Regions from separate parts of the Homo sapiens genome. Here region 2 is linked to region 1. Evidence: fine-mapped expression QTL. A gene starts in region 1. The other region holds a variant in brackets. All regions are shown on one strand. Distances are from middle to middle.

What was found. PIP is the estimated chance that this variant, and not a neighbour inherited with it, causes the effect.
Region 2: its variant is the best candidate, but not a certain one, in a credible set for the expression of DEF8 in esophagus muscle (GTEx, PIP 0.79).

What each region holds. Positions count from the first base shown.
Region 1 is chr16:89,946,811-89,951,313 of GRCh38, reverse strand. It overlaps DEF8 (differentially expressed in FDCP 8 homolog), which reads right to left and starts at 2,559. Exons shown (of 13, transcript NM_001242818.2): 1 at 2,500-2,559; 2 at 1,801-1,897. RefSeq lists a silencer at 2,430-2,529 and an enhancer at 3,210-3,549.
Region 2 is chr16:90,000,736-90,004,961 of GRCh38, reverse strand. DBNDD1 (dysbindin domain containing 1) reads left to right here. Exons shown (of 4, transcript NM_001042610.3): 4 at 1-91. It also overlaps the pseudogene AFG3L1P. Among named protein-coding and RNA genes, the nearest start is that of DBNDD1, 17 kb to the left of the region's middle. The variant G/A (reference allele first, on the strand shown) is at 2,163.

The DNA.
Region 1 (4,503 bases):
CTGCACTCCAGCTTGGGTGACAGAGTGAGACTCCATCTCAGAAAAAAAAAAAAGAAAAGATTCTGACTGATGATCCCAATAGTTTCATGGTAACAAGACAGACACGTCCAGCTTGAATCCCAACTCTGCTAGCTCCTAGCTGTGTGACCTTGGGTAAGTGGATAAACGTTTCTCTGCCTCCATTCTCCCATGTCTCAAATGGGGATTACAATAGTACCATACAGGGTTATTGTCAAGATTAAAGTAGTTAATACTAAGTTCAGAGAACACTGGCCGGCACATAGTAAGCACCCAATAAATATTGATTATAATTTATCATTATTACTTTTTTTTGAGACAGGGTGTTGCTCTGTCACCCGAGCTGGAGTGCAGTGGTGCGATCACAGCTCACTGCAGCCTCAAACTCCTGGGCTGAAGGGGTCCTCCCATATTAGCCTCCCAAGTAGCTGGAACTCCAGTGTGTGCCACCACACTCAGCTAATTTTTTTTAACTTTTTGTAGAGACGGAGTCTCACTCTGATGCCCAGGCTGGTCTCAAACTCCTGGCTTCAAGCAACCCTCCTGCCTCTGCCTCCCAAATTGCTGGGATTATAGGTGTGAGCTACCATGCCTGGCCTATTACTGTTATTTTTAAGAATCATGGCCGGTGTGTGGTGGCTCACTTTGGGAGGCTGAGGCGGGTGGATCATTTGAGGTCAAGAGTTCAAACCAGCCTGACCAACATGGTGAAACCCCGTCTGTACTAAAAACACAAACAAATTAGCTGGGCATGGTGGTGCATGCCTGTAATCCAGCTACTTGGGAAGCTGAGGCAGGAGAATCACTTGAACACGGGAGGTGGAGGTTGCAGTGAGCCGAGATTGTGCCACTGCACTCCAGCCTAGGCAACACAGCAAAACTCCATCTCAAAAAAAAAAAAAAAATCAGCCCTGATTTAGACTCTGGTTCTCCATTGTCTTGCCTATAAATCAGGGGGAACACCTACTTTCTGGGGTGGATGGAAGGGCTAAGGACTTGTTTATGATGTCAGTGAAGCCAGGAGCCCAGAGCTGCTCAGAACAGACTGGCACTGTCATCACATATGGTGACCAGCCCAGGAAAAAGGTGCAGGAGCTACGCCTGGGGAAGCCGCTGGAAACCTCCTGGTGTTTAAAACATGGCCAGAGGAGCGTCAAGGAAGGCACGCTGGCAGGGACACCTCCGTTCTGCCCAGCAGCTGTACTCTAGGCTACCAGCTCTCCTCCGGGCTGTGAAAAAAGGCATCTTTTATTTGCCTATTTACTGACAGTCAGTGCCAGCCCCAGGCCTGGCGCACGGGCAGGGGATGAATGAGGGGAGGCCGCTGGCCTCGCAGCCTTAGCTTCTGCTCACACAGACCTGGGGATGCCGGCCACAGTGGCCGACTCTGAGCAGAACGCCAGCCTGCCCCTCTCACCAGGCTCACCCCACCAGTTCTGCACCCAGATGTGGGACTTGGCCTCAGAAAGGAGCGGGCAGGAAGTGGAAGAGTGAAAGCAAGAGGTCTGGCCACCCCCTGCCCCTCCTCTAGAGCCCACTGCTCTCATCGGGGAGGACCCCACAACTTAGCAATGAAAGGAAGCCGAAGAAAGCCGGCGGGGTTCCGGGGCACGGAGGGACCCTGGGCCGAAGCTCAGGACACGCGGGATGCACGGACCTGGCCTCCCGCGTCCTGCCCGCGGCGTGACCACCAGGAAGCGGTGTCATCACTGCAGCTGCCACCCCGAGAACCTGAGAAGTCACCCCGGTGTGCGGAGTCAACAGCGTCCTGTCTGCCCATACCTGCATCGCCTGCCAGGGCCCAGGGGCTCGCAGGGACAGGATGGCCATTCCTCTAGGGCTGCTGGCCACGGAAGCCTGGCCGTGGGTTCGGCACCTGCTGCAGGGAGAAGCCACCCCAGCACTGTGCCTCCCCACCCACCACACCCGCGGGAGCTCGCCCGGTCTCCCGGGCTCCTCGGGGGCAGGTCTCTCCCACCCACCCGTTCCACCGAGGGGGAAACTGAGGCTCGGAGCAGCCCAGGGCGGGGGCACGGCCACGCGGGTCCCCTGAGCCGCCCGGGTGCTCCGCACGCAGCTGGTGTGGACGCCGGAGCAGCGGCGGCGTCCCCGGGGTGGGGCGGCCGAGGTCTCGAGGCCCCTGCGCCGGGCGGGCCGCCCTCCCAGCCCCGTCCCCGCCGGCCCCGACCTCGCCGGCCCCGTCCCCGCCGGCCCCGTCCCCGCCGGCCCCGTCCCTCCCAGCCCCGACCCCGCCGACCCCGTCCCCGCCGGCCCCGTCCCTCCCAGCCCCGACCCCGCCGGCCCCGTCCCCGCCGGCCCCGTCCCCGCCGGCCCCGTCCCTCCCAGCCCCGTCCCCGCCGACCCCGTCCCCGCCGGCCCCGTCCCTCCCAGCCCCGACCCCGCCGACCCCGTCCCCGCCGGCCCCGTCCCCGCCGGCCCCGTCCCCGCCGGCCCCGACCCCGCCGGCCCCGCGCCGCTCACCTGACCGCCGCCTCGCATCTGTCTCCCGGCTGCGCTGGATCCGCCCGGCCGCCCCGCTACGCTGGATCCAGCCCCGCGCTCGCTGCTGCCGCCTCCGGCGCGGAGGTTCATGGCACGCGGGTCGCGAGTCTGCGAGCCCCGGAGTCCGCCCGGCTGTTCCGCGGGCCTGACCTGGGGCTGCGCGTCCTGGGTTTCCTCTCATCGCAGAAGGCCTGTGGCTGAAACCCAAACCCCAACACGTTTAAAAAAAATGGGCGGGCGCGGCGGCTCACGCCTGTCATCCCAGCGCTTCGGGAGGCCGAGGCGGGCGGATCGCGAGGTCAGGAGATCGAGACCATCCTGGCTAACACGGTGAAACCCCGTCTCCACTAAAAATACGAAAAATTAGCCGGGCGCGGTGGCGGGCGCCTGTAGTCCCAGCTACGCGGGAGGCTGAGGCGGGAGAACGGCGTGAACCCGGGAGGCGGAGCTCGGAGTGAGCCGAGATCGCACCACTGCACTCCAGCCTGGGCGACAGAGCGAGACTCCGTCTCAAAAAAACAAAAAGGGTGGCTTTTAACACTTTTTTTAACCTCAGTGGTTGAGGAGGAAAAAGGAACAGAGAACCACCGTGTGCAGGTGCCGCCAGCCACCTGCAGGGCCCCGCGGGGGCTTCACGGCTGCAGAGGGAGGGACCCGGCGCGGCTCTACCCTCTTTACACAGGAGGACGCGCCACACTGCGCTCAGGAGGCTGCTCCATGCAGGCGCCGGGCAGCGGGACTTCGGAGGCAGCTGGTGTCCGCGGGCCCTGGCGTTATTCCTGCTTTCCCGTTGTTTACACACAGAGCAGGCCTGCTGCTCCCCGCCCCCGTATCCCTACTCTTAGGCTTCTCGCGTGGAAGATTCAGCTGCCCCCGCTTGTGCCCGCAGGGAGGAGCTGAGGACAGATGAAGGCCAGCATATGCGCCTGGTGCGCTTGCCCTGAGCTCGCGGGCTCAGTTTACCCTCCCTGCAGAAAGGTGTGGTTTTGGCTGCCTCTGGGGCTTGGTCCACTTTGTTCAGTGGGCATGGTGATGACAGTGCCAGTAACTGGAGGCCTCCCAAGTGGGAGCCACACACCACCTTGCAGAGACCAGCTCGGTCGGGGAGACCCTAACCCGGCAGCGCTAGAGGAACTAAAGACACACACACACAGAGATAGAGAGGTGTGGAGTGGGAAATCAGGGGTCTCACAGCCTTCAGAGCTGACAGCCTCGAACAGAGACTTACCCACGTATTTATTAACGGCAAACCAGTGATAAGCATTGTTTCTGTAGATATTAGACTAACTAAAAGTATCCCTTATGGGAAACGAAGGGATGGGCCAAGATAAAGGGATGGGTCTGGCTAGTTACCTGCAGCAGGAGCATGTCCTTAAGGCACAGATCGCTCACGCTATTGTTTGTGGCTTAAGAATGCCTTTAAGCAGTTTTCCGCCCTGGGTGGGCCAGGTGTTCCTTGCCCTCATTCTGGTAAACCCACGACCTTCCAGCGTGGGCGTCATGGCCGTCATGAACATGTCACAGTGCTGCAGAGATTTTGTTTATGGCCAGTTTTGGGACCAGTTTATGGCCAGGTTTTGGGGGGCGTGTTGCCAACACCATCTCATTTAACCCTACGGAAGCCTGGGGGCCAGCAGTCACCTACAGGACAGGCAACTCCATCGGCCCCCCCAAGGCCACATCGCTCAGAAAGGGTGCAGTGAGATTCCACCCCAGCTTAGGGTGGCTTCGGACGCCGTGTCCCTCCATGCACTCAGACCTGGAGGGAGACTGCCCTGAGCCGCCGCTCTATCTGCTGCTTCAAGGTCCCCAGTCCTAGAGATTCCACGTCCACCTGGCCTCTCTCCCAGCTCCTCCTTCTGGAAAGGCCTTCCCCATCTCAGCTCCCACCTGGGCCCCACAGTACATCCTCAGCCTGGCAGTGAGAGGGACCCTGGGAAGAAGTCGGCCCCCACCTTCACCTCCTGGCTCCTCTCCCCAACA
Region 2 (4,226 bases), 54 kb before region 1:
GGTCTTCCTCCCCATCTTTCCATCCTTCCTGCTGAGCTTCCACAGAGCTCGTTTGCAAACAGGGGGATTAAAGCATCACTGCGCATTCGAAGGCCTGGCCACAGTCTCTTCCTTTCCAATAGCAGAGTGAACGAGGTGCCTGCTGAGGGGTTGTGAGCTGAGCTGCCCTGGGCTCCGTGCCCGGACCATTCTCCAGCTGCAGCAGCCTGAGGGCTCTGCTGTGCTCACTTGGGTCACATGTGGGGGATGAGTGACCTGGATTTCCAGTCCCAAAGTCACACAACAGAAGGAATCATTAAAGAAGTGAAAGTCCCGCCCCACGTGCACGTAAAGGTAGCCCAGGCTGGGGGAGGGAGTCACAGAAGTCCCACCCCACGTGCATGTAAAGGTAGCCCAGGCTGGGGGAGGGAGTCACAGAAGTCCCGCCCCACGTTGCACGTAAAGGTGGCCTGGGCCAGGGGAGGGAGTTACAGAAGTCCCACCCCACGTGCACGTAAAGGTAGCCCGGGCCAGGGGAGGGAGTCACAGAAGTCCCGCCCCACGTGCACGTAAAGGTGGCCCGGGCCAGGGGAGGGAGTCACAGAAGTCCCGCCCCACGTGCACGTAAAGGTGGCCCGGGCCAGGGGAGGGAGTCACAGAAGTCCCGCCCCACGTGCACGTAAAGGTGGCCCGGGCCAGGGGAGGGAGTCACAGAAGTCCCACCCCACGTGCACGTAAAGGTGGCCCGGGCCAGGGGAGGGAGTCACAGAAGTCCCACCCCACGTGCACGTAAAGGTGGCCCGGGCCAGGGGAGGGAGTCACAGAAGTCCCGCCCCACGTGCACGTAAAGGTGGCCCGGGCCAGGGGAGGGAGTCACAGAAGTCCCGCCCCACGTGCACGTAAAGGTGGCCCGGGCCGGGGGAGGGAGTCAAAGAAGTCCCGCCCCACGTGCACGTAAAGGTGGCCCGGGCCAGGGGAGGGAGTCACAGAAGTCCCGCCCCACGTGCACGTAAAGGTGGCCCGGGCCGGGGGAGGGAGTCACAGAAGTCCCGCCCCACGTGCACGTAAAGGTGGCCCGGGCCGGGGGAGGGAATCACAGAAGTCCCGCCCCACGTGCACGTAAAGGTGGCCCGGGCCGGGGGAGGGAGTCACAGAAGTCCCGCCCCACGTGCACGTAAAGGTGGCCCGGGCCAGGGGAGGGAGTCACAGAAGTCCCGCCCCACGTGCACGTAAAGGTGGCCCGGGCCAGGGGAGGGAGTCACAGAAGTCCCGCCCCACGTGCACGTAAAGGTGGCCCGGGCCGGGGGAGGGAGTCATAGAAGTCCCGCCCCACGTGCACGTAAAGGTAGCCCGGGCCAGGGGAGGGAGTCACAGAAGTCCCACCCCACGTGCATATAAAGGTAGCCCGGGCCGGGGGAGGGAATCACAGAAGTCCCACCGCACGTGCATGTAAAGGTAGCCCGGGCCGGGGGAGGGAGTCATAGAAGTCCCACCCCACGTGCATATAAAGGTAGCCCGGGCCGGGGGAGGGAATCACAGAAGTCCCACCGCACGTGCATGTAAAGGTAGCCCGGGCCGGGGGAAGGAGTCATAGAAGTCCCACCCCACGTGCACGTAAAGGTGGCCCGGGCCAGGGGAGGGAGTCACAGAAGTCCCACCCCACGTGCATGTAAAGGTAGCCCAGGCCGGGGGAGGGAGTCACAGAATCCCACCCCACGTGGTGGTAAAGGTGGCCCAGGCCAGGGGAGGGATTCACTCCCCAGCAACGGAGTCGCTCTCAACACACTCCTGTCCCAGAGGCCACTGGCACTGGTCCTGGGGAGGTACCAGATGAGGCCAAAACTCCTGCCCACTGTCATTACTCATGAAATGGGGTGGCCATGGAGCCTGACCAGGGCTGACATGCCTTCTGCCAGGCCCACGGGTCTCTGTGTGTTTCCGTGCTGGGCTCTGAGGGGAGAAGCCTGGACCTCCCCTACATGAAAATTCTCAGCAAGGTGTCCTATGACCATGGACCCAGAAACGGCCTCAGTCAGTGATGTATCTTCTGGGAAGGGTGCACAGCTACTGGCAGGTACACGCATTCCACCCCATTCCACCTTCCCTTCTGGCAGAGGGAGGGAGGCAGGCAGGCTGAGAAATACAGGGGCTGAAGGCTCGTGTCCCTGCAGGGTGCACAGACC[G/A]CTACAGCACAGACAGCAGTGCCCGCAGGTGTCACTCTGCTGGGCCGATGGTGCTTCTCAGCAAAGGTGCAGCTGAGCCACCATCGACAGGCTGATGAGGCAAACTGCAGGTCATGCTCAGGACAGCTGGGAAAAGACCACGGAAAATAGTGTGTCTGATTCAGGGGGTGAGATGGCTCCAGAGTTACATAAGGACCGGCTTGTAAAGGATACGTGCGGGAAGGCTGCGGGAAAGGCGCCTGACAGCCCTGAAAAGTTGAGGGTGAAGGCAGGCGCCGAGAACACAGGTCTGGAGGGAACAGCCCAGTGGGGGAGGCACAAGGATCCCACGCCCAGATCATCATGAAGGACCCCAGGCACGTGCAGCCGTCTGGGAGGTGACAAGAGGGACACCCAGGCTCTCCCGGGGTGTTGGAGGGAACCACGGTGGAGCGAGGGCCATGACTTTCCACAGCCCGTGACCACCCTGCATCCCGGAGGCCACCGATGCTGCCATGTCACAGGGCCTGCTGGGGTTGAGGAAGCACCCCCACCTCCATCTGAGGGACCTAAGACCAGGCCCCAACCGGACCCCAAGGGGCTCAGCTACTCTGGGTCTGGTGGAGGCCATGATGAAGGTTGAGTGCTGGAGAGTTTTTGAGTCCAATGATATGCATTTTATAAACAGCAAAAGTTGAAAGTGTTCACCCCCAGTTGGAAATTATATTTTTGAGGCTCCGAGGCCAACATAACAAGCGATTTATAAAATATACTACAAAGCCCCAGTGTCTGATCTGGCCTAGGTCGAGAGAGAGGCTGAGAACAAACAGTGCCCGGGGCAGCAAGCAGGGCCTCCTCCTCCCGCTGTTCACCCAGGACATCTGCAAACGGGCATCTTCCCAGGTCCCATCCCAGCTGACCCACAAGCAGGGCCTCCTCCTCCGGCCGCTCACCCAGGACATATGCAAATGGGCGTCTTCCCCAGGTCTCATCCCAGGTGACCTAGACACGCATCCACCCACCCCAAGGCAGTGGTTGAGGCTGACACTGCCCTGCTGTTGCTGACCCCAGCGAGTCCTGGAGGCAGGTCGTGTGCTGCAGAAAGCACACGGGGCATCCTCATCGAGTCCCACACACCCCAGACAAGAAAAAGCAAACCCTCCCTCAGTACAAGGCGCCAAAGGGCCTGAAGCTCAGAGCCCAGAAGGGGCCTTCCTAATAAAAATTAGGAGCTACCCAACCCCAGGAAAAGTGTTCACGAACAGGTACCAGGGCCAGGGGCAGCCACGTGCTGGGGCTTCAGGACCACAGTCTCTCCACAAACACCCCTGAGCCGGCTGGGGCCCTGCAGAGCTTCCCGCTCCAAGACTCCAACAAAAAGGGGTCACAGGAACAGAACTGACGATCCAGACACATCCCGCAGTGAAAGCACCTCCAGCCAAGGACAGGGGCCAGGTTTTCTAAGCAACTCAATTCCCTCACACTCAGCAGTGCTGCCACAGAGCCAAGGCGCAGGCAGGGGTGGCGGGGGGTGCCCTGATGGGGAACCCAGGTGTGAGGCCCCACAGCTCCACCTCCTCCCTCAGCCATGCACCTGTGGGTGGTGTGGGCTTTTTCCTTTCTAAGGACAGAACAGCAGATCGGCTTCTACCGATCCAAACAGCTGCTTTAGAACCCTGACTTCCCCTTGATGCCTGGCTGACGTTCTCCTCTTCTGAATTCTACCAAACGGTGAGGGTTTCTGTGCTGGACCCAGGCTCCTCCGAGTGTCTTTATGACCATATCAACGCTCCTCCACGGAGGCCCCAGGAAGGCCTGGTGTCTCCAAGGTGTCCCACGCAAGCCCCTCTCGAAGCTACAGTCGTGCCTTCCTCAGCACCACAGGGGCCAGAGCCCTGGGGCCTCTCCCGTCTAAGCCTGGACCCGACTGTCCTCCAGCGGGAGGGCCCAGGGACTCAGGGTACCCCCTCTGCCCACTCCCACTCCTACTCCCTGCATGTGGGCTCAGAGCACCCTCATCTAAAACACCCATTCACAGTTGTCACGTTTTAATTTGTTTTGGGTGAGATTCCGCAGCTGCTTTGC